Linked DNA regions of Homo sapiens. The protein of the gene in region 6 purifies or fractionates together with the protein of the main gene of each other region. This does not show direct contact. Each region holds a gene or a part of one and is shown on either strand. Other genes may lie near its edges.

Region 1 (3,500 bases), on a different chromosome or scaffold from region 6:
AGATGAGTTTTTATTAGACTGTGAAGATCCTTGGTCCAGAGATTGAGTAGTAGTATATTAGATTACTCAAAATCATTTAAAAGATTAGCATTATCTTTCCAAAAACAAGTTAAAACAAGTTTAAAAACCTGTTTTAGTCAGATATAAAAGATTATTTAGGAAAAGTCATCTATATTATTGTTATATTCTAAAAGAAAATTAGACCAGTCTTAAATACAAAAGTCAATGAGAAGGTAAAATCTTTGTAAATGGTTGAGTTTTATAGACGTGTAGGGTAGTAATTGGTTATCATCATCATCATGATCAACATTATAGAAACTCATGTCAATTTTAACATTTTGGAAATAGGTAGTACTTAATATATATTAAATTTAGGGAGTAGAATATGAATAGGATTAAAAAATTCTTAACATTTGAAATAGTTTGTTTCCTGTTTTTAGTGACTGGCCTTTGTTTACTTAGAAAACATCCATTTCTGGTAGGTTTTAAAGAATGTAGACCATTCTTTTTTGAGATGTTTTTGGAGAGTGGATTAAGCATCTTCTCAACTGCTTTAAGTTAACTGCTTTAAGAAAAGATTTTATGGTGTTTTAAATTTAAATATACATTATTAACTTGTTTTGTTTGAACTACATTTACAGTGAACTGCTTGAAGTGGACCACATCAGAACAATATATCACATGTTTATTGCCCTCCTCATTCTCTTTATCCTCAGCACACTTGTAGTAGATTACATTGATGAAGGAAGGTAAGACAACAAAAAAGATGGCTGGCTAGTTGATGCATGAGAAGTTAGAGGTTTTCACTAAATTTTGGTAAAGGGTAAATTGATTAAATTGCTTCAGGAAATCCTAAAGCAGCAGATTTGAGGGTGATATTCCTTTGCCCTGAAAAGTTTAACTGATGGAGAAAATTAGAAGTTTCATTACTTTTATTTTTAAAATGGTTTATTTGAATAGACCATAATCAGTAATTTCTAGGTAATTTTCCCAAATGGGAGAACTTTATACACAGTTGACCTACGAACAGCACGGGTTTGAACTGTGCATGTCTATTTATACACAGAATTTTTTCAATCAATGTGTTTAGCACTCTGTATCCATGGGTTCTACATCTGCAAGCAAAGGCTGATTGGGATCTAGAGTATTCCAGGATGCAAAACACACATATAAGAATGGCAGATTTTTCATATCTGTGGGTTCCACGGGGCCAACTGTGGGCCTCGAATTTGCATAAGTTTTGGTGTCTGCACAGTTTCCTGGAACCAACCCCCCATGTATAGGGAGGGATAACTGTATATGACTTATTAACTTTTTGATTGTCTTTATTTAAGATGGTTACTTAAAACAAGTAGCTTATTGGAATTGAAGGTTGAAAAAGTTGATATTTCTTTTTAATGTGAAAGTCAAATTATAGGCCAGGCATGGTTGCTTGTGCCTGTAATCTCAGCACTTTGGGAGGCCGAGGCGGGAGGATCACTTGAGCTTAGGAGTTGGAGACCAGCCTGGGCAACATCTCTACAAAAAATTTAAAAATTAGCTGGGCGTGGTGGCAGACACTTGTAGTTCCAGCTACTCAGGAGGCTGAGATAGGAGGATCGCTTGAGCCAGGGAGGTTGAGGCTGCAGTGGAGCTGTGTTTGTGCCACTGCACTCCAGCCTGGATGCAAAGGAGACCAGATCTCAAAATAAAATTTTAAAACTCAAATTGTAGCTTAAAAAATGACAGCGTGGTAATCATGGATTGAATTATGTACTTTTTTTGAAAATTAAGTTTGGAGATAATGGTATAGTATATTAACATATTTTTAAATTGTACCTATTTCTTCTGAAAAATCATCTTTTGTACATAAGAACGATTGCTGTTTGAATATTTTCCATAGAATATTTTACAGTTAGAAAATTAATGTGAGAATCTAATCTTTCAGAAGTTCAAAGTCCAATTATCTTAGATATCTTAAGTTTGAAGACTGTATTTATCTTAGGGCTTTTAGAAAATTTGTTTCTAAAGAACATATATTGTTGATATATATATATATATATATATTGTAAAGCAGATGGTTAGAAGCAGATCTCTAACTAGCAGAACTATTACATCCATGACTTCAGCGTATTAACGTTGTGGTGTTTCCTAAGGTTGAAAGTTTGGTGTTTGAAACTTTTAAATTCTGTGAACTCAGTGTATATTAAAAATTCACCTCTATGTTCTTTTTCTGTACCTTTTCTCCCCAGGCTGGTGCTTGAGTTCAGCCTCCTGTCTTATGCTTTTGGCAAATTTCCTACCGTTGTTTGGACCTGGTGGATCATGTTCCTGTCTACATTTTCAGTTCCCTATTTTCTGTTTCAACATTGGGCCACTGGCTATAGCAAGAGTTCTCATCCGCTGATCCGTTCTCTCTTCCATGGCTTTCTTTTCATGATCTTCCAGATTGGAGTTCTAGGTTTTGGACCAACATATGTTGTGTTAGCATATACACTGCCACCAGCTTCCCGGTTCATCATTATATTCGAGCAGGTAAGGTTTTAAGTGTTACCCAAGGCGATGCTGTCCTCGGCTAAAATAATAATAATGATGATGACATACTGATACTATTATTTTTAGCTGTATTAACTTGGATAAATTTTCATATATTGTTCTTTTGCCATTATCTGTAAAATTGTTAAACTAGAATCATCTCACCTCTTAAGTTTCATTGTAGCTTCCATGTTCTCTGAATTTTGATAAATAAATTACGTTGAACTTTTTTTTTTTTTTTTGAGACAGAGTCTCGCTCTGTCACCTAGGCTGGAGTGCAGTGGCACCATCTCGGCTCACTGCAACCCCTGCCTCCCAGGTTCAAGTGATTCTTCTGCCTCAGCCTCCCAAGTGGCTGGGACTGCAGGCGCCTGCCACCACACCCGGCTAATTTTTGTATTTTTAGTAGAGATGGGGTTTCACCATATTGGCTAGACTGGTCTCAAACTCCTGACCTTACGATCCGCCTGCCTCGGCCTCCCAAAGTGCTGAGATTACAGGCGTAAGCCACCGCGCCCGGCCACATTGAATTATTTTTGATGCATCAAGATTTTGTTTCTGAATACTTTTTGTAAAAGTCATTTAAATTATAAAATATTTTCATAATTAAAAACTTCACTTTTGAAATGTCAGATTCATTGTTTTGTCATGTAACTATATAATAAAGGTTTTATTTTAATTTGTTTATACACTTATCAGGATTTTCTGACTTTACTGGCTATCTATAATGCATTTGACTAATGGAAAGGACACTTGCAGGAGACTTTCTTTGAAGAGACATCTTTTTCCTCCTGCTTTTGTAGATTCGTTTTGTAATGAAGGCCCACTCATTTGTCAGAGAGAACGTGCCTCGGGTACTAAATTCAGCTAAGGAGAAATCAAGTATGTAATTTCTTTTGTTCATTATTTCTTCCTCCCCTCCCCTCCTCTCCCCCCACCCCATTCCCTTCCCTTCCCTTCCCTTCTTTCCTTCTTTCCTTCCCTCC
Region 2 (4,225 bases), on a different chromosome or scaffold from region 6:
AACAGACTGCAAGATACTAGTCCCATGCTCTGTTTCAATTTTGCAATTATCACCCTCAATACTTTGAACTTTTACACAGCCAGACCCTGATGACTTGATATCTAAACCTAGAAGTAAAAAAAGAAAAAAGCAAGTTAGTACTGCAGTTTATAAGCTCCAAAGCATTTTAACCTAGAAACCCAACTCCTCAGTTATGTCCGTAATATTGCTGAATCCTGGAAAGTGCATACTGTAAAGGTAAGGGGTCTTCTACCACAGCAACGGGACCAAAAACAATAGCCTTTCTGCCCGTTTTTAGAAACAGAGCAGTTATTTCTACTGGCCTAAATCACCTAAAGAGAACTAACATAGATGGGAAGTAAAGGAGACTACGATTCTGTTAAGTACTCCTGTGAAAGACTGTAGAAGCCTCTTCCCCAGTATATATGATCATGACTTAGGTTTTCAAATCCTATGTCTAACCTTTCATACTTAAAAAATGAAAATATTACCATGCAACTATATCACAGGTATTTGAAGTAATTTTTTAAAAATGGGAACAACTTTGAAAAAGCTAATATATACTATTAAAACTACAAGATTAGGCCATGAGCAGTGGCTCATGCCTGTAATACCAGCACTTTGGGAGGCCGAGGAAGGAGGATTGCTTGAAGCCCAGGAGTTCAAGACCAGCCTGGACAATGTAGCAAAACTCCATTTCTACAAAAAAACAAAAACATTAGCCGGGCATGGTAGCATGCACCTGTAGTCCCAGCTACTCAGGAGGTGGAGGCGAGAAGATTGCTTAAAACCGTGAAGTCAAGACTGCAGTGGGCCATGATTGTGCACCTGTACTCCAGCCTGCGTGGCAGAGTGAGTGAGATGCAGTCTCAAAAAAAACCAAAACAAACAAACAAAAAACCCCACAAGATTGTGGACAAATGGCAGTGGTATATGAAGCAAGTTTGGAAAATAAGGAATTACAAATGCCATCCTTGGCTGTCTATTTAAGATGTAACTGCAGGCATCTCTGTATACAAATTTTAAAAATTAAAAACGCTGATATTTAATTTGGAATTAACATAAATATTGATGATTTCTCTTAAAGTAGGCAAGACCCGCCCCCCCACTTGATTCCTGAAACCACAAATAGTACCAAATCCTATATATTCTATGTTTTTTCCTGTATACATATCAATGATCAAGTTTAATTTATAAACTAGGCATAGTAAGAGATGAACAATAATAACAAATACAGCAATTATAACAATATACTGTAATAAAAGTTATATTACTGTGATCTGTCAAAATATCTTAATATTTTCCTACAACAGCTGAGGCAGGTAACAAACTGAGACAGCCAAACGGTGGATAAGGGAGGACTACGGCATCTACTATTTGGGCAACTCTAAGCATTATAAAAGATGATCTTAAAAATGCTAAATGCTATTATTATTACTATCATCATCATCATCAATATCTTCCATCAGTCCCAGGAAGAATGACAGTCTGGGGAGCCCTTCCTAGAAAAGTGTGTGTACACAGTGGCTTGCCATTTAGGAAAAGCTAAGAAAGGTATCTTGCAGGCATTATTATTGAAGCTTCCTAGGCAGGCTTACCATGTGTTTTTCTTCAAAGCTTGCTACTCATGGAAAACTTAGGCCAAAAAGAATGGAAATATAACAGTAAGAAGCTGGGCGCCCGTCTAAAACCAAATACTCAAACCAGGTGATACCCGGAACATCCTATTGACAGGGCTGTTTTGGGACAGACCCCCAGGCTGTGAGCAAGATGAAATGTAGATGGACTGCCATACCATTGAATGAATTGTCAAGAAACTTCAACCTTGAAAAATAAGCCAGTTTGCTAATGACAACGGGATAAAGGAGAACACAAGCGGCTCCAGAAATAGAATTTGACCTGGATTATACCAAATCATGTTTCCATTCGATGTATAAAATTTCTATAATTGGGAACCTAATTTTTAAATACTACTCGGACACTCAAGAACAGAACAGAGGAAAAGGTGCATTTCCGAAGGGGCCAACTGTAAATTAGGTTTAGAGAGCCAGGACCAATTAAAAGTGCACGTCGACCACATTTATTAAGTTCACTGTGCGTTCCCTGGGACCCAAACCCGTTTTCACTTCACTTCACTTGCCAAACTTCAGGGGCGCGTTCACCTCCACGGACGCCTGGGGGTGGATAGTATCAGACACAATGGCCATCTCCTCCAGATCCTCGTCGTACTTCACCTGCAGGCCGTCCAGGCCCCGCACGCCGCCCTCCACGCCGCACACCGCGACCAGCACGCGGTCGCCATCCGGGTAGGTGAGGGGGTCCAGGGGCCTCACGGCCAGGTGGCACGGGAGCCGCGCCCGCAGCCGACCAAACGGGCTCACCTGCAGTGTCCACTCCTTCAGAGTTCGGCGCCCCGGGCCAGGCGGAGGGACCTCAGTCTCCGATCCGGGCCAGCGCTCGCTCCCACCTGAGCTGTACGGCCTGGCTTGGCAAGCCCAGCAAGCCCAGCGCCCAGCGCCAGCCCACAGTCGGACCTGACGGAGACAGAGACGGAAGCAGCCAAGCTCCCAACCTGAGCAGGGGGCAAGCATGGCGCGCCTCTCTCGCCAGTCCTCAGAACACTTCAGCCACAGGGAGGGTCACTTGCCACGGCCAATCGACTTGGCCACTGTGCCGCCTCAAGTCAAATAGGAGACGTAAGTCAGGGTTTGCTGAAACAAGAGCGAGCCGGTTGGCTTGACTAGGCGTTCTAAACATCAGCCGCGCAATCCCCAGGGGCAAGTTGGGATTTGAAAGCTCTAAACTCTGACCTGGACCCCTTGCCTAAGTCCACCCCCTTTCGCTAAGGCCGACGGGATAGGTAGTTCTAAGTCGCAGAGCTCTGCCTCTTAGAAACCACATTTCCCAGGAGGCAATGCGCAGGGGAGCACGGGTAAGAGGGTAGGTGTTAGAATCGCTGGAAAGGCGGGCGCCCTTTGTCTCAAGACCATTGGCTATTGGAGGGGCGGTACATGGGAGTCCACTGGCCAATGGGAAGCACGGAAGGGGCAACGCGGGTAAAGCTGCGTGGTCACCTTGGATACCAAGCACGCGACTTCTTGGTTGGAGAGGGTGGAGCTTTGGAGTGAGACCCAGGACGCCAAATCCCAAAGAGAAAAATAGGAGCCTAAATAAGGATCAGGACCAAGGGAAGGGGTAAGAAACTGCGCTTTTTAAGATGACAACTAGGTGCAAACTAGGAGTAACCTCTGTGGATGTCAACATCCAAGCTTCACTAACTTAGTGAGGGCATCTCCAGGGCATGGAGAATGCCTTGGTAAGAAAGTAAAGAGCAAGATTGGTGCTTTTTGAGGGAATTGCCTCTTTGGAAGTGTATTCCCTCCTATATTCCAAATATAGGAATAGAGTACTTGCTCCGTCCTGACCCTAAGTGACCTTACTTTGGGTTTTAATTTGCTCACTTTAAAAATGTAGATAATAATACCTTCCTTGCCTTGCCTCAAAGGGTTTTTGTAAGGATCAAGTAAGAAAATGGATGGGACCGTGGTGCACAGTCTACAAAATTACCGTGTAAAGAACTGTATTTTTATTTCAACGTACTTAACATTGATTCTGAGTTACCAAGAAAATTATGAGAGATCAGAACTTGTTTTGAGAATAGCATTGATCTCTTTGACTACAAATGATCCTCAGTTTTAGAGTGAAAAAAAAAAAAAAGACACAAAAAAGAGAGTCACCATGGTGCGGTGGAAAGAGCAGGGACAAGGGTCAGGTTATTTTCCTGGCTCTGCCACTGCTTCATCTGTGTCACCTAGACCTGTTTCTTTAGTTTTAAAATGAAGAAAGATGGTTCTAAATGACCCTATAAGGGGTGTGTGTGTGTGTGTGTGTGTGTGTGTGTGTGTGTTTACCTTTTATAATTCTATAGGCAGTAAAATAATGGGAACAGAAAGATTTATTTTCTTCTTTTTTCTTTTTTTCTTCTTTCCTGCCTGGTTTCTCTCTCCCCCTCTGTGCCCCTACTTCCTCCTAAAATGTATTCCCTAAATTATTTAGCCAAGACACCTGCAAACACTAACATTTCATAAAATGCAAGTGCCTTAAAAAATAGAAGCCCTTACCCAAGTACAATGACCAGAATTCTTGGGGCTATCGTGATAGATAGACTGGGCTAAAGTTCTCATGGGTACAAGTCTCAGGTTCTCTGCTAGCCACTACCTTTTTA
Region 3 (3,500 bases), on a different chromosome or scaffold from region 6:
ATATGTGGTTACTGGCCTTGAACTCTGGATGTAGTGGTTATCAAGAACTGCAGATTGATCTCTTCTGTATTTTCTTCCTGTCCTTGAAAATACTACCAACTTCTGTTGTTCCTTTTGACATAAAACCAAATAATCAATGTTATGTTTTTGTGCTTGTTCCCCACTTGATTCATCTGCAGAAGTCCTAGGTAGGAGAGTTTCTGTATAGCCATATTTTTATTTAGGAATCTAAGTACAGCAAATCAACTTTGGACTAAGCATTAGGAAATCTGTGTTTTTGGCTTGGTTGGGTTGTTGAATTGCTTTGTAAACTCTGTGCTTGCTTAGACTGCTTGCCTAATCAGTTTGGTTCTGTTTCATAATGCCACTACTAGATAGTTCAGTATCTGAAGCATCTAGGTTGCTTCTAGTCACCATGGAGACTTAACAGAAGGCTTGGTGTAAATAAGGGTAGCACCTGTGAGGGTAGCACAGGTGAAACAGTACCTGTGTAATGCAGGTGTTGGAGATGCATGGGGATAGGTATTGCTTGTAAAACAAGAAAGCCTGAAGTCGGGTATAGGTGAACATATTGTTTCTACTGGTAACAGTGCCATGGACCCATTTCTTTCTTCTTTAACAGTGACTCTGGACTTCTAAAACTTCAACTTATTATCCATCTCTTTTGCCTCTCTCCTCTCCCTTTAACCATGGTTAGACCTCTTCTTGCTTCACCTCTGTTAGAGATTGAGCAGAGGCAGGAAGAATGAAACCCAGAAAAGTCAACTGAATTTTTAGCAATACCCTTAAAAGATTTCGAGTGGGACGAAGGTTTTAACTATTCATATTACCTATGTCTTATTCTTTGTGTAACTGAAAATTTGTCAGTTTCTTCTTACAAATACATTTTTATTAAAATATGTTTTCATTTAACCAGTCTTCACCTATATCACATAGTTATCCCAGTGGCCCCAAACTTAACCAAATGGATGATTAAAGGGTGACTGATTCTAAAATTATGATCTAGAGCCAATTAATTTGTTCACAAAGAAAAATAAAAATAATAAAACCGGGAAATTACTTGGAGTAACCACAAACCAGATACAAAGTAAAATTAGCTACTTCTGACAAACTATTGCTTTGCTTTTAAAATTCTCACTTGCTTTACTTAATTAGTATATATAGACCAAACGAACAATGAAAAGTTACTTATTTTGGTTTTTGATCAGTTCAGTGTCTTGGCTTTTGACAGTTTTTAACTTTAACTTAGTTTACGCTCTGAAATTCAATCCTAGCAGCTCATTTGTGCTCCAATTTGGGGACTACTTGCATAAAAGAAGTCTCTGGAAAGCCTATATAGCATTGACTGTCAAATTAATGATATTCTATTCTCATTTGTAATCCTTTGCTTTATAACCTTATGACCTTGGAAAAAGTCACTCCTTTGTTTATACCTGTTTTCCATCTATACATGTGTAAATATTCTACTCTTTACTCCTCTAAATGAGACTATAAACATTTTTTCAAACATCTTAAAAACTTGAATATACTGTGTGAAATGGTTCTTTACTTAATGTTTGACTTAGGAAGGCAGAATTGCTGTTGTATGATTGAGTCCCAGAAAAGCTGATTACTAATTGGCCTGGTACAAGAGTGTGTCTCTGTTCAATAAGCTTATTTAATATTTTAGTGTAACCTTAATAAAGTTTACTAAAGTTTTATGTTATTTAAGACTATGGAGATATGCATGTTTCATATTTTCCTAACAGTTAACCAGTATTACTTTCCAAATTTTTAAATGCTCAATGCTATTTTAAGAAAGATATATTTAGACATATTACTGAACATATAAATATATTTATGATTACTCATTACTTTTAATTAATACTTTTTAATCTTTGGTTCTTATTTCTAAAATAAGCTTTCTTAGAAGATAATTAAACATTGTGTTTTTTCTTTTAGGGGTGAAGAAAAAGCAATTTATACTATGCTTTTTCTGAATTTAAGTTCTGGATCACAGAGCAATTCTGTGGTAGGAGATGATATCATGTAAAAATATGCTGGAGGGGCTGGGCGCGGTGGCTCACTCCTGTAATCCCAGCACTTTGGGAGGCTGAGGCGGGTGGATTGCCTGAGCTCAGTAGTTCGAGACCAGTATGGGCAACACGGTGAAACCCTGTCTCTACTAAAATACAAAAAATTAGCTGGGCGTGGAGGTGTGCGCCTGTAATCCCAGCTACTTGGAGGCTGAGCCAGGGGAATTGCTGGAACCCAGGAGGTGGAGGTGGAGGTTGCAGTGAGACGAGATCGTGCCACTGCACTCACGCCTGGGCAACAGGTGACAGAGCAAGACTGTGTCTCCAAAAAAAAAGTATATATATATGTACGTATGTGCTGGAGGAATTGATTTGGATTTATGATTGGTATTATTTTCCTCATATTACATATTCACAGTTGACGGCTGGGCACGGTAGCTCACACCTATAATCGTAGCACTTGGAGAGGCCAAGGCGGGTGGATTGCTTGAGCCTAGGAGTTCAAGACCAGCCTAGGCAACATAGTGAAACCCTGTCTCTATAAAAAATACAGTGAGCCAAGATTGTGCCACTGGGCTGCAGCCTGGGCAACAGAGTGAGACCCTGTCTCAAAAAAAAAAGAAAATTCACAGTTGTCAAAACATAGTTCTTCTAATGTTAAGCACTTGTTTATGCTATAATAGTAAAATGTTTCTTTTTTTTTTTTTTTGAGATAGAGTCTCGCTCTGTCACCAGGCTGGAGTACAGTGGTGCGATCTTGGCTCACTGCAACCTCCGCCTCCTGGGTTCAAGCAATTCTCCTACTTCAGCCTCCCAAGTAGCTGGGACTGCAGGCGTGCACCACCATGCCCAGCAAATTTTGGTATTTTTAGTAGAGACGGGGTTTCACCATGTTGGCCAGGATGGTCTCCATCTCTTGACATTGGGATCCACCCGCCTTGGCCTCCCAAAGTGTCTATTTTTAAAAAACTTTTACTGAATGATATTTCTTCCTGGTAAGATTGGGATAAATGAACTAAGATTAATTGACATCTTAAAAACTGAAATCAGTGTTCAGAAAGTAAATATTTGGATTATTGGAAAAATACTTATTTTTAAAACGTAGAGGTAGATGTTTGGCATAACAAATGAGAGTGACTGTTTTGCTTAGAAGGAATGAAATACTGCAAAAGTCTGACAGAAGTTAAGATGTACTTAGCTGTCAGAGTTCTTGGTGATACCCATAGGTAAAGAACAGTGGCTTTGCTAAATAATTAACCAGTCAACTGTAGCCAAAATTATAGGACAGATAAGTTCAGATAGGTCTATAGAATTCTAGAGAGCAATGTTTAACAAAATAAAAACAAGCGAAACACTGAAACGCAGGTATACCTCGGCACTGGAGATTGAGTGGCGCTCTGGGAAATGCAGCCTTCTCCAGGAAAAGGTGGGAATGGTCCTGGCAGAGCAGAAGCAGCGAGGCTAACTCGATGGCTCTGGCAGTGA
Region 4 (3,500 bases), on a different chromosome or scaffold from region 6:
ATTAATAGAGATATTGAGTTTCAAAGTGAGAAGCAAGATTGCTTTTAAAATTCAGTCATGAAGGCCGGGCTCCATGGCTCACGCCTGTAATCCCAGCACTTTGGGAGGCCGAGGCGGGTGGATCACCTGAGGTCAGGGGTTCGAAACCATCCCCGGCCAACATGGCAAAACCCCGTCTCTACTAAAAAAAAAAAAAAAAAAAATTAGTTGGGCATGGTGGCACATGTCTGTAATCCCAGACACTTGGGAGGCTGAGGCAGGAGAATCGCTTGAACTTGGGAGGCAGAGGTTGCAGTGAGCCAAAATTGCGCCATTGCACTCCAGCCTGGGCAACAAGAGCAAAACTCCGTCTCAAAAAATAAATAAATAAAAATAAAATTCAGTCATGATCTGAAGAAACTACTGCCCCTAGTAAGATCTAGAAATCAGTGGTCTACATGATGATGGTTTTAAGCACAACTTTAGTTAATCAGAATCTCCTCCATATATTTTGCATTAAGCAAAACTGTGCTTTCCAACAGTTAAGAAAAAATTAGAAAACTTAATTACAATGAAAATGTCTAACATCTGTTTGTCAGTTGCAGTTTAGAGAGCCCTTTCACATATTAAGCAAAAATGATCTAGGGGTGCCTTTGAGGCAGATATGGGTCTTATTTTCCCATGAGGCTCAGGGGCACATGACTGGGATACAGCAAGGCCTGGAGGAGAGCTGGGTTTCTCTGACTCCAAGCTCAGGCTCGAAGATGTTAAGCACATTCAACGAAGAGGATGCACTAGCACACAGGAGGAAATGCCTTAGAAATCACAAGAGCATCAAGGACAAAACGATTTATTTTAAAGTGAATACAGTATATGAAAACAGGAGAGCATGGAAAGTATATATCACCATCCCAAAGCGGAATATAATTAGGCTTCTAAACAGAGAAATACACTAAGTAAATGTTCACATATTTTAAATATGTATATATGTACAGATATTAAATTAGGCAATACTTAATACAACTACTCAACGTAAGTGTTTTGAAGACAATAAATTCTAATTTCCCTTAAAAGTCTTATCCTCACATAATATGAATACAAATGTTACCAGAAAACGGTCCTGATCCAGACTACAAGACAGAGTTCTTAGATCTTGCAAAAGAAAGAATTCCGGGCGAGTCCAAAGCAAGTTCATTCAGTAAAGGAATAAAGAATGGCTACTCCATAGGTAGAACAGTTTGGGCTGCTGGACTAAGGATACTTATAGTATTCTCATACTTATGGTTATTTTTTGATTATATGCTAAACAAGGGGTGGATTATTCATGAGTTTTCTGGAAAAGGGGGGGACAATTCCTGGAACTGAGGGTTCCTCCCCTTTTTAGACCATATAGCCTAACTTCCTGACATTGCCATGGCATTTGTAAACTGTCATGGCACTGGTGGATATGTCTTTTAGCATGCTAATGTATTACAGTTAGTGTATAATGAGCAGTGAGGATGACAGAGGTCACTTTCATCGCCATCTTGGTTTCAGTGGGTTTTGGCTGGCTTCTTTACCGCATGCTGTTTTATCAGCAGGGTCTTTGTGACCTGTACCTTTTGCTGACCTCCCATCTTATCCTGTGACTTAGGATGCCTAACCTTCTGGTAATGCAGCCTGGTAGGTCTCAGCCTTATTTTACTCAGCCTCCATTCGAAATGGATTTGCTCTGATTCGAATGACTTTGACGCAAACATTTCAAAATCAAACAGTAATCTACATTAGTAATTTTCATAAAGTAACTTTCTTCTTATTAAAAAAGTGCATTTTATTGTTTTAAGAACAAATGGCTAGATAAGATACACAACCAAGATAATATGATCTGCTTCTGAGCATGCATAGGGAAGCTGTAAAACTTTAGTAAACCTAATGGAAAAAGTGTAGAATCTGCATCTCTCCACTAGAGTAAAAAGAGAACCACACACACCTACAACACACGTCCAGGCCCCATCATATTCAGCAAGAGATTTAACAAGTTCATTAACTGATAACCCATTCCAATGGTAAGATATGCATTCCCCTCAAATTGCAAGCTTCCCCTGGGTATCACAAATCTTGCTTATCTTTTAAGTGACTAAGAAAACTGTGACAGTTTTTTACTATTTTACTGTGTTGTTATATCATTGCCAAGCCAACCAACACAAAAAAATTCAATTAAATAGTTTTCAAAAATAATCATATAAAAAAACCCCAGAGACTGACAGGTTGACCATAAAGATATAAAAGAGTGATTCCCCCAAATGACCAGAAGCCAGTAAAGCTCTTGTCAAAAGAGCTCTAGGGTCATGGGACACATGAGGTCAACTTCCCACTAATGTGCCTTTGACAGATGCCTTAGACTTTAGATCTGAAACCTACAATTTTACACGGATGTAATTAACAAAGACAAGAGAACTCAACTTCAATCCCAAACTTCACCTGCTGAACTCAATAATTACATTGGGCCATTCACCTGGCCCTATTTTAGTTTTCTCACCAAGAAAATTCTAAGAGGGTAACCTTTAAGTTCTACATTTTTATAACATTCCCATGGATATGAAAGATGAGAAAAGAGTGAGAAATAAGGTCTCATTTTCAAAAAACAACAACAACTTTTTAAACTTAGCGGAAAACAATTACATAAGAACTTTATGATTAATATGAAAACCCGCAGAAAAAGATTCTGCTGTTGACAACTCCAACACTGAAAAGCTATATTATAAAAAGTAGTAATTACTGTTAGGAAATAGGAAAAGTATTTGCCCAAAGGGCAGAGTAGTAGCACTTTGGACAAATTTTAGTATTAAAAATATTAATAAAGCCTCGCTCTTCTCAATTACAACAATCTCCCTAAACTAATAATTTGTCTAGGTAACAAGTTTTCAAAAGTAACTGGTCAAGTGACTTATAAACTGTGTTTACAATTAGTGCTACTGTAAACTAGTAGATAAAATCACACGTTTTCATGATCAGTACAATAAACCATACTAGAACTTCTGTAAGTGGTCTTGGTGACAGCTACGCTATTATGTTAACAATTGCTGCTTTAATAAAGTTAAAATTACAAAATGCCATCCAAACATTCTTTATGTGATAGTGATCGTGCTGAAAAACACACCTGACAATCAGCCACAAATATGGAGAAAGATGCCAGAAAAACACAAACAGCTATTAAGAGCTCTCAGGAAAAAAATAATAGTGAGAATGCTGAGAAAATAGAAAGCAGTATTAAAGCACAAAATCAAGCTACAATAGTTGTAGATTTATGTATTCTGAAAATAAATTATTCTGCTTTTTAAATGTATTTATATTCAGTGATTCTTGACTGAATTATGAAAGGTCCTCCATGGAGAACTGATCTTCCCTATGAAATGAAACTGCCCTTTATGAGATTAAACAACATCTAGACCCAGATATAGACGTAATTTTTACTAGCTTTGATGACTAGTAACCATTATAACTAAACAGTTCTAACAGTAACTAAATAAAACTAGCAGCCT
Region 5 (3,213 bases), on a different chromosome or scaffold from region 6:
AAGAGGTGAGACCAGATGAAGCAAAGGGACCCAGAGAGGAAGAAGGGTTCTCTCAACAGTCTCTTAGTAATTAATGTCAGCCCTAGACCACCTAACTCACAGTACAGTGAATTCCTCATGATTCTTACCCCATTTTACAGAGGAGGCAACTGAAACCCAGAAAAGGAAAGTCAGCGTGTCTAAGTGATAGAAATGGGAGTAGAGCCCTGGTGATTCCCTCCTGCCCATTCTTCTGGTATCCCTTTTGTGGGTGAGCTGGGGATAAGGGGCACCATTGAACTGTGCCCCCAGGTGGACTGAAGAATGCATGTGGCCGCAGGGCGTGCTGGTGAAGCACAGCAAGAACGTCTACAAAGCCGTAGGCCACTACAACGTGGCTATCCCCTCTGACGTCTCCCACTTCCGCTTCCATGTGAGTCTCCTCCCCGGGGAAGGAGGGTTGGGGCCTGAGAGGGTGGGAGGATCTGCAGGGCAGGAATGTGATGTCATTGCAAGAGAAAGCTATTTTCAGTATTTCCCCAATCCAAAGGAAGACAGTGCACACATGTAGCACAAGGACAGCCATATAAATTGTCACTTAATAACTGCAGCTCGGCCGGGCATGGTGGCTCACGCCTGTAATCCCAGCACTTTGGGAGACCAAGGCAGACAGATCACCTGAGGTCAGGAGTTCAAGACCAGACCAGCCTGGTCAACATGGTGAAACCTCGTCTCCACTAAAAATACAAAAATTAGCCAGGTATGGTGGCGGGCGCCTGTAATCCCAGCTACTCGGGAGGCTGAGGAGGGAGAACCACTTGAACTCAGGAGACGGAGGTTGCAGTGAGCCGAGATCATGCCACTGCACTCCAGCCTGGGCAACAGAGCAAGACTCATTCTCAAAAATAAATAAATAAATAACTGCAGCTCATTTGGTTGTAGATCTTTGAGAACATTGGACAGAGGGAGAGAAGATGATACAGTAAAAGAAGGGGCTCTTGGCAGTGAAAGACAATACTGTCTTCATTTGTTACTGTGTGCCAGGCATGTCGTTAAGCACTCTCCATGTACCTTCCTACTCAGCCTTACCCTGAACCTTGTACGTGAAAGATATGCTAGGGTTATCTCTGTTTTTAGATACTGAAATCAGCTAAGAGAGTTTAACTTGTTAAAGGGTGCCTTCTTGGGAAACTTGAGAACCTAATGGTAATGACTCATGACTTAGCTATGGAAAGGGCTGCTCAAAATTATCTAAACTAGTGATCTCTATTTTTTTTTAAATTTCACTATGAAATCCCCTCCCCCCCTTTTTTAAAAAAAACAATCAGAGGCCAAAATCCAATATATGGGACATCCTGGCACTGCTCTGTTTGGAGGAGTTAGAACCCCCTTCACTTCCTGCTCACCCCCGCTGTAACTCCTAAAGGATCCCCTTGAAACCTGGGGCTCTAAGGAACACAGCATGAGAAATCACTGACCTAGACTGATGTCTTCATTTCACAGTTGAGACATCCAAGCCCCAGAGAGGAAAGGGACTTGACCAAAGTATTGCAGCCTGTTAGGTGCAGAGCTGAGCCTGATATCCTGGTCTCTTGGCCTCCCATTTCCTACCACTTCTCCTGTCCTGTAAGCAGCTCTTGAGATTTAGGTACCTTGGCCCCTGTGGAATCAAAATCCCTAGACACTGTGCACTCTTTTGAACTCATCAGAGATTTTTTTTTAGTCCCTACGTTCTACCTTGCTGTTGAGAGTGAGCTGTTGCCATGTCCCTTGGCAGCTTCCAGCCTAGCTAGGGATGTACCTATGAAGTAGTAGGTAATTCAGGCTGTAGAGTCTGTAATAACTTTCCATGCCTATGTCATAGGATTCTAATTTGTTCAGGCCCAGCAATACCCAGGAGATGACATTAAAAGGTGTTGATTTTATTGAGGGTCAGTGGATGAGGGAGAAAAAGTTTTCAAAAATTAAAAAAAATTTTTTTAAAGGTGTTGACTTTAGACCACAAAAAGAGTTTGAGAGAGCAAGCAGAACCTGTCAAGAAAGACTTCCTAGGGGAGGTAGAAGTTGAACAGGATCTTAGATGACTTACATCAGAAGCAGCAGTCCTATCAGGAGGAATACCACAAGCAAAGGCAGATGAGGTGGCAAAGTCCACATCCAACCCCAGAAAGTCTTCTTCCCCACCCATGTCTGCATGGGGCCCCAGGAGGCTGTCCCCTTCACTGGCCCACCCAGAACCCCCATCCAGGAGGAAGATTTCTGGAGCACACCTTTTAGCCATGCCCACCCGCTTCCGGGCAGTTCTTTTTCAGCAAACCCCTGCGGATCCTCAACATCCTCCTGCTGCTGGAGGGCGCTGTCATTGTCTATCAGCTGTACTCCCTAATGTCCTCTGAAAAGTGGCACCAGACCATCTCGCTGGCCCTCATCCTCTTCAGCAACTACTATGCCTTCTTCAAGCTGCTCCGGGACCGCTTGGTATTGGGCAAGGCCTACTCATACTCTGCTAGCCCCCAGAGAGACCTGGACCACCGTTTCTCCTGAGCCCTGGGGTCACCTCAGGGACAGCGTCCAGGCTTCAGCCAAGGGCTCCCTGGCAAGGGGCTGTTGGGTAGAAGTGGTGGTGGGGGGGACAAAAGACAAAAAAATCCACCAGAGCTTTGTATTTTTGTTACGTACTGTTTCTTTGATAATTGATGTGATAAGGAAAAAAGTCCTATTTTTATACTCCCAACAAGCCTGTGTCCTGTGGTTCTTTTCCTTCGTGTGTGTGAGACCTATTACAGAGGTGTGGGATTCTGGTTTAGGAAGCCCCAACATGTGGCTTCTGAAGCCTCTGTGGGTACTGCCTTCTTCAGTAGAGAGGAGATGAGAAGGCACTGGAGGCCACGGGAGCAGTGATAGCTACTGCGAACTGAATGCTCACTGTGTGCCAGATGCTGCTCTGTGTGTATTTCAGGCCTTGCCTTAATCTAACTTTTATGACAACCCTAGGAGGAAAGTGCTATCACTCCAATGGATGAAGAACTGGAGCTCAGAGAGTTATAGTGACTTGCCCGTAGTAACACAGCTAGGAAGTGGTAGAGCTGGACATAAAACCTCTGAAAGGCCGGGCACAGTGGCTCAAGCCTGTAATCCCAGCACTTTGGGAGGCCGAGGTGGGCAGATCACTGAAAGCCAGGAGTTCGAGACCAGCCTGGCCAAGATGGCAAAACCCCATCTCTACTAAAAATA
Region 6 (3,500 bases):
CAGGCATGAAGTCATTGCTCCTGGGCCGATGACATCTTTGTAGGAAGAGGGCAAAACAGGTGTGGGGTGGAGGTGCAGGGTCTAGGGCCCCTCGGGGAGTTGGACCTGATGTTCTGAGTCCTATTCCAGATCTGATTTGCCATGGTTTGTGCAGACCCGAAGGAGGGAGGAGAGTGTGCAGGGTTGGGATGGTCTCCCGGGCAAGCTTCCCAGCCTTACGCCCACTCGCCTCTGTCCCTGGCAGACCCACAGTTCATCAAAGCCACCATCGTGCACCAAGACCAGGCTTACGATGACAAGATCTACTACTTCTTCCGAGAGGACAATCCTGACAAGAATCCTGAGGCTCCTCTCAATGTGTCCCGTGTGGCCCAGTTGTGCAGGGTGAGCAGGGGCGTGAGGGCTGCTGGCTACGTGTCTGTGCATGAATAGGCCTGAGTGAGGGTGAGTTCTGTGTGTCCGTGTGCATGTAGAAGTTGTGTGGATGTATGAGTGGGTCTGTGTCAGGGACTGTGGGAGCAGCTGTGTGTGCATGGAGCATCATGTGTCTGTGTGTGGGTAAAGGTGGCTGAGCTCCTGTGCACGTATGATGGCGTGTGAGCGTGTGTATGATGGGGTGTGTGTGTGTGTGTGTGTGTGTTTTGCCTGTGTGAATGTGCTGTGCCACGTGTGTGGGTGTGTGAGTCAGTAAATGTGTGTCTGAGTCCGTCTGCTCTGTGGGGACCTGGCACTCTCACCTGCCCTGACCCTGGGCACTGCTGGCCCTGGGCTCTGGATCAGCCAGGCCTGCTTGCTGGAGTCTCATCTGGAGACCTGCCCTGAGTCCTGGGGCACCCCCGGCAGGTCCTGGCCCCTCACAGCCTGCCTTCCTCCTCTGGGCCCAGGTGTTGATATTGCTGGCAGTGGTTTCCTGGGGTGTGTGGGGAAGCCCGGGCAGGTGCTGAGGGGCCTCTTCTCCCCTCTACCCTTCCAGGGGGACCAGGGTGGGGAAAGTTCACTGTCAGTCTCCAAGTGGAACACTTTTCTGAAAGCCATGCTGGTATGCAGTGATGCTGCCACCAACAAGAACTTCAACAGGCTGCAAGACGTCTTCCTGCTCCCTGACCCCAGCGGCCAGTGGAGGGACACCAGGGTCTATGGTGTTTTCTCCAACCCCTGGTGAGTGGCCCTTGTCCTGGGGCCGGGGCTGGCATTGGTTCAGTGTCCAGTAGGGACAGGAGGCCTTGGGCCCTGCTGAGGGCCTCCCTGGTGTGGCAGGAGCAGGGGCTGCAGGCTCAAGAGGCTGGGCTGTTGCTGGGTGTGGGGTGGGGGGACAGCCAGTGCGATGTATGTACTGTTGTGTGAGTGAGTCTGCACTCATGGGTGTGTGTGCATGCCCTATATGCACACTCATGACTGCACTTGTGCCTGTGTGTCCCACCACCTGCTTGTGCCGAGAGTGGACACTGGGCCCAGGAGGAAGCTGCTGAAGCATCTCTCGGGGAGCTGGGTGCTATTACACCTGCTCAGGCACTGCCTGAGCCCGATAATTCACACTTCTTAATCACTCTCATTGATTGAACACACGGCAGGCGGAAGTGTTGGGTGTGTGTGGGGAGAGTTAGGGATAGAGTGGAGGAAGCCAAGACCCTGCTCTGTGGCTCCTGGGTGAGTGGGGTCCCCCAGGCTGGGAAGGGGTTGGGGGTCTGGCCTCCTGGGGCATCAGCACCCCACAGCCTGTGCCCAGGGAGGGCTAGAGAACTGCTCAGCCTATGATGGGGTTCCTCCTGCCTTGGGGTTGGGTAGAGCAGATGGCCTCTAGACTCAGTGATTCTGTAACAGGATACAAGTTTGTGGTTTTAAATTGCAGCACAAAGAAATTAGGCTGAACTCCTCTCCTTCCTCCTCTCCATCCCTCCCCATTTTCAGTGGTGGTTGGCAACTCAGTGCCAGGCACAAGGCTGGCCTGGGTGAGTGGAGGTGGATGGGTGGGTTCTGGGCCCCCCATTGAGCTGGTCTCCATGTCACTGCAGGAACTACTCAGCCGTCTGTGTGTATTCCCTCGGTGACATTGACAAGGTCTTCCGTACCTCCTCACTCAAGGGCTACCACTCAAGCCTTCCCAACCCGCGGCCTGGCAAGGTGAGCGTGACACCAGCCGTGGCCCAGGCCCAGCCCTCCTTCTGCCTCACCTCCCACCACCCCACTGACCTGGGCCTGCTCTCCTTGCCCAGTGCCTCCCAGACCAGCAGCCGATACCCACAGAGACCTTCCAGGTGGCTGACCGTCACCCAGAGGTGGCGCAGAGGGTGGAGCCCATGGGGCCTCTGAAGACGCCATTGTTCCACTCTAAATACCACTACCAGAAAGTGGCCGTCCACCGCATGCAAGCCAGCCACGGGGAGACCTTTCATGTGCTTTACCTAACTACAGGTGAGAGGCTACCCCGGGACCCTCAGTTTGCTTTGTAAAAACGGGCATGAAAGGTGTAAGGAATAATGTAGTTAACATCTGGTTGGATCTTTACATGTGGAAGGAATAATTGAGTGACTGGAGTTGTCAGGGGTTAATGTGTGTGGGTGTGGAAGAGTCAGGCAGGGAGAGCTTCCTGGAGGAGGTAGGGGCAAGAGGGAAAGGGGGATGGGAGAAAAGCAAGCACTGGGATTTGGAGGCGGAAATCTGGAGAGTCTGAGCAAAGCCAGGTGCACCTTTGGTCCAGATGTCTGACTCAGGGAAGAAGATGGTAGGAAGAGACGTGGCAAATGAGGAGGAGGGGCCTGAACCACAGGGATACTGGCCTCTGCCAGGCAGAATGAGGGAGTCAGGCCCTGCGCCTGTCTTTGGGATTGTGCAGGTGAGAGGAAACATTTGAGGAGTTGATGGGGCACAAATTAGGTATGAGGAAGGAGTTCCAGGGGGCAGAACCTTTGCCATCTCACAGAGGACAGGGGCAGCTTCTCTTCTTCCCTGGAGTAGGCCCTGCTGGGGGAAGCTGGGTGGAATGCCGTGGGAGATGCTCCTGCTTTCTGGAAAGCCACAGGACACGGAGGAGCCAGTCCTGAGTTGGGTTTGTCGCAGCTTCCCATGCCAGCTGCCTTCCTTGAGACTGGAAAGGGCCTCTAGCACCCCTGGGGCCATTCAATTCAGGCCCAGGCGCCCAACCTCAGTTGTTCACATTCCCCATGTGATCTCCTGTTGCTGCTTCACCTTGGAACTGTCTCGGCTTTGGTGACCTTGTAGGAAACTGGAACCCCAGCACCATTGTTTGGCTCCTGGAAGCCTTGGGGAGAGGAATTTCCCACAGGGCAGGGCCTGGGTCCTGATTCCCTGCCTCTTTACTCCCTATTCATCCCGGCTACACCCTTGGGCCCCCATCCTTGCTTGGCTCCAGTAGTGGCTGGCACAGCTGTTGTGGTCAGCCAGGGATGGCAGGGCACTGGGGAGCAGAAGAGGAGAGGTCACACAGTGCGGAACTGGGAGCAGGAGCTAGGACAAGGAAGGCTGGACTTGGGCCATGGATT

Evidence for each region.
Region 1: the proteins of SEMA7A (region 6) and SOAT1 purify together in Homo sapiens (affinity purification with mass spectrometry; 2 studies listed by BioGRID and IntAct, with this or other methods). This does not show direct contact.
Region 2: the proteins of SEMA7A (region 6) and FAM185A fractionate together in Homo sapiens (co-fractionation; one large-scale study listed by BioGRID). This does not show direct contact.
Region 3: the proteins of SEMA7A (region 6) and TAPT1 purify together in Homo sapiens (affinity purification with mass spectrometry; one large-scale study listed by BioGRID and IntAct). This does not show direct contact.
Region 4: the proteins of SEMA7A (region 6) and DPY19L1 purify together in Homo sapiens (affinity purification with mass spectrometry; 2 studies listed by BioGRID and IntAct, with this or other methods). This does not show direct contact.
Region 5: the proteins of SEMA7A (region 6) and TMEM39B purify together in Homo sapiens (affinity purification with mass spectrometry; 2 studies listed by BioGRID and IntAct, with this or other methods). This does not show direct contact.

Annotation. Positions count from the first base shown.
Region 1 is NC_000001.11:179,338,797-179,342,296, forward strand, and holds part of SOAT1 (sterol O-acyltransferase 1), read left to right. Parts: intron 1-641; coding exon 642-749; intron 750-2,231; coding exon 2,232-2,514; intron 2,515-3,213; exon of another isoform or gene 3,214-3,317; coding exon 3,318-3,396; intron 3,397-3,500.
Region 2 is NC_000007.14:102,747,574-102,751,798, reverse strand, and holds the start of FAM185A (protein FAM185A), read right to left. Parts: upstream 2,801-4,225; 5' UTR 2,592-2,800; coding exon 2,141-2,591; intron 108-2,140; coding exon 1-107.
Region 3 is NC_000004.12:16,219,972-16,223,471, reverse strand, and holds part of TAPT1 (transmembrane anterior posterior transformation protein 1 homolog), read left to right. Parts: intron 1-3,500. UniProt on the Homo sapiens protein: Plays a role in primary cilia formation. May act as a downstream effector of HOXC8 possibly by transducing or transmitting extracellular information required for axial skeletal patterning during development. May be involved in cartilage and bone development.
Region 4 is NC_000007.14:35,027,486-35,030,985, forward strand, and holds part of DPY19L1 (protein C-mannosyl-transferase DPY19L1), read right to left. Parts: intron 1-3,500. UniProt on the Homo sapiens protein: C-mannosyltransferase that mediates the C-mannosylation tryptophan residues on target proteins.
Region 5 is NC_000001.11:32,100,151-32,103,363, forward strand, and holds the end of TMEM39B (transmembrane protein 39B), read left to right. Parts: intron 1-140; exon of another isoform or gene 141-291; coding exon 292-412; intron 413-590; coding exon of another isoform or gene 591-761; exon of another isoform or gene 762-921; coding exon of another isoform or gene 922-957; exon of another isoform or gene 958-1,964; coding exon of another isoform or gene 1,965-2,063; exon of another isoform or gene 2,064-2,280; coding exon 2,281-2,523; 3' UTR 2,524-2,713; downstream 2,714-3,213. UniProt on the Homo sapiens protein: May protect the cells against DNA damage caused by exposure to the cold-warming stress and facilitates tissue damage repair during the recovery phase.
Region 6 is NC_000015.10:74,413,459-74,416,958, reverse strand, and holds part of SEMA7A (semaphorin-7A isoform 1 preproprotein), read left to right. Parts: intron 1-244; coding exon 245-384; intron 385-973; coding exon 974-1,158; intron 1,159-2,012; coding exon 2,013-2,121; intron 2,122-2,213; coding exon 2,214-2,412; intron 2,413-3,500. UniProt on the Homo sapiens protein: Plays an important role in integrin-mediated signaling and functions both in regulating cell migration and immune responses.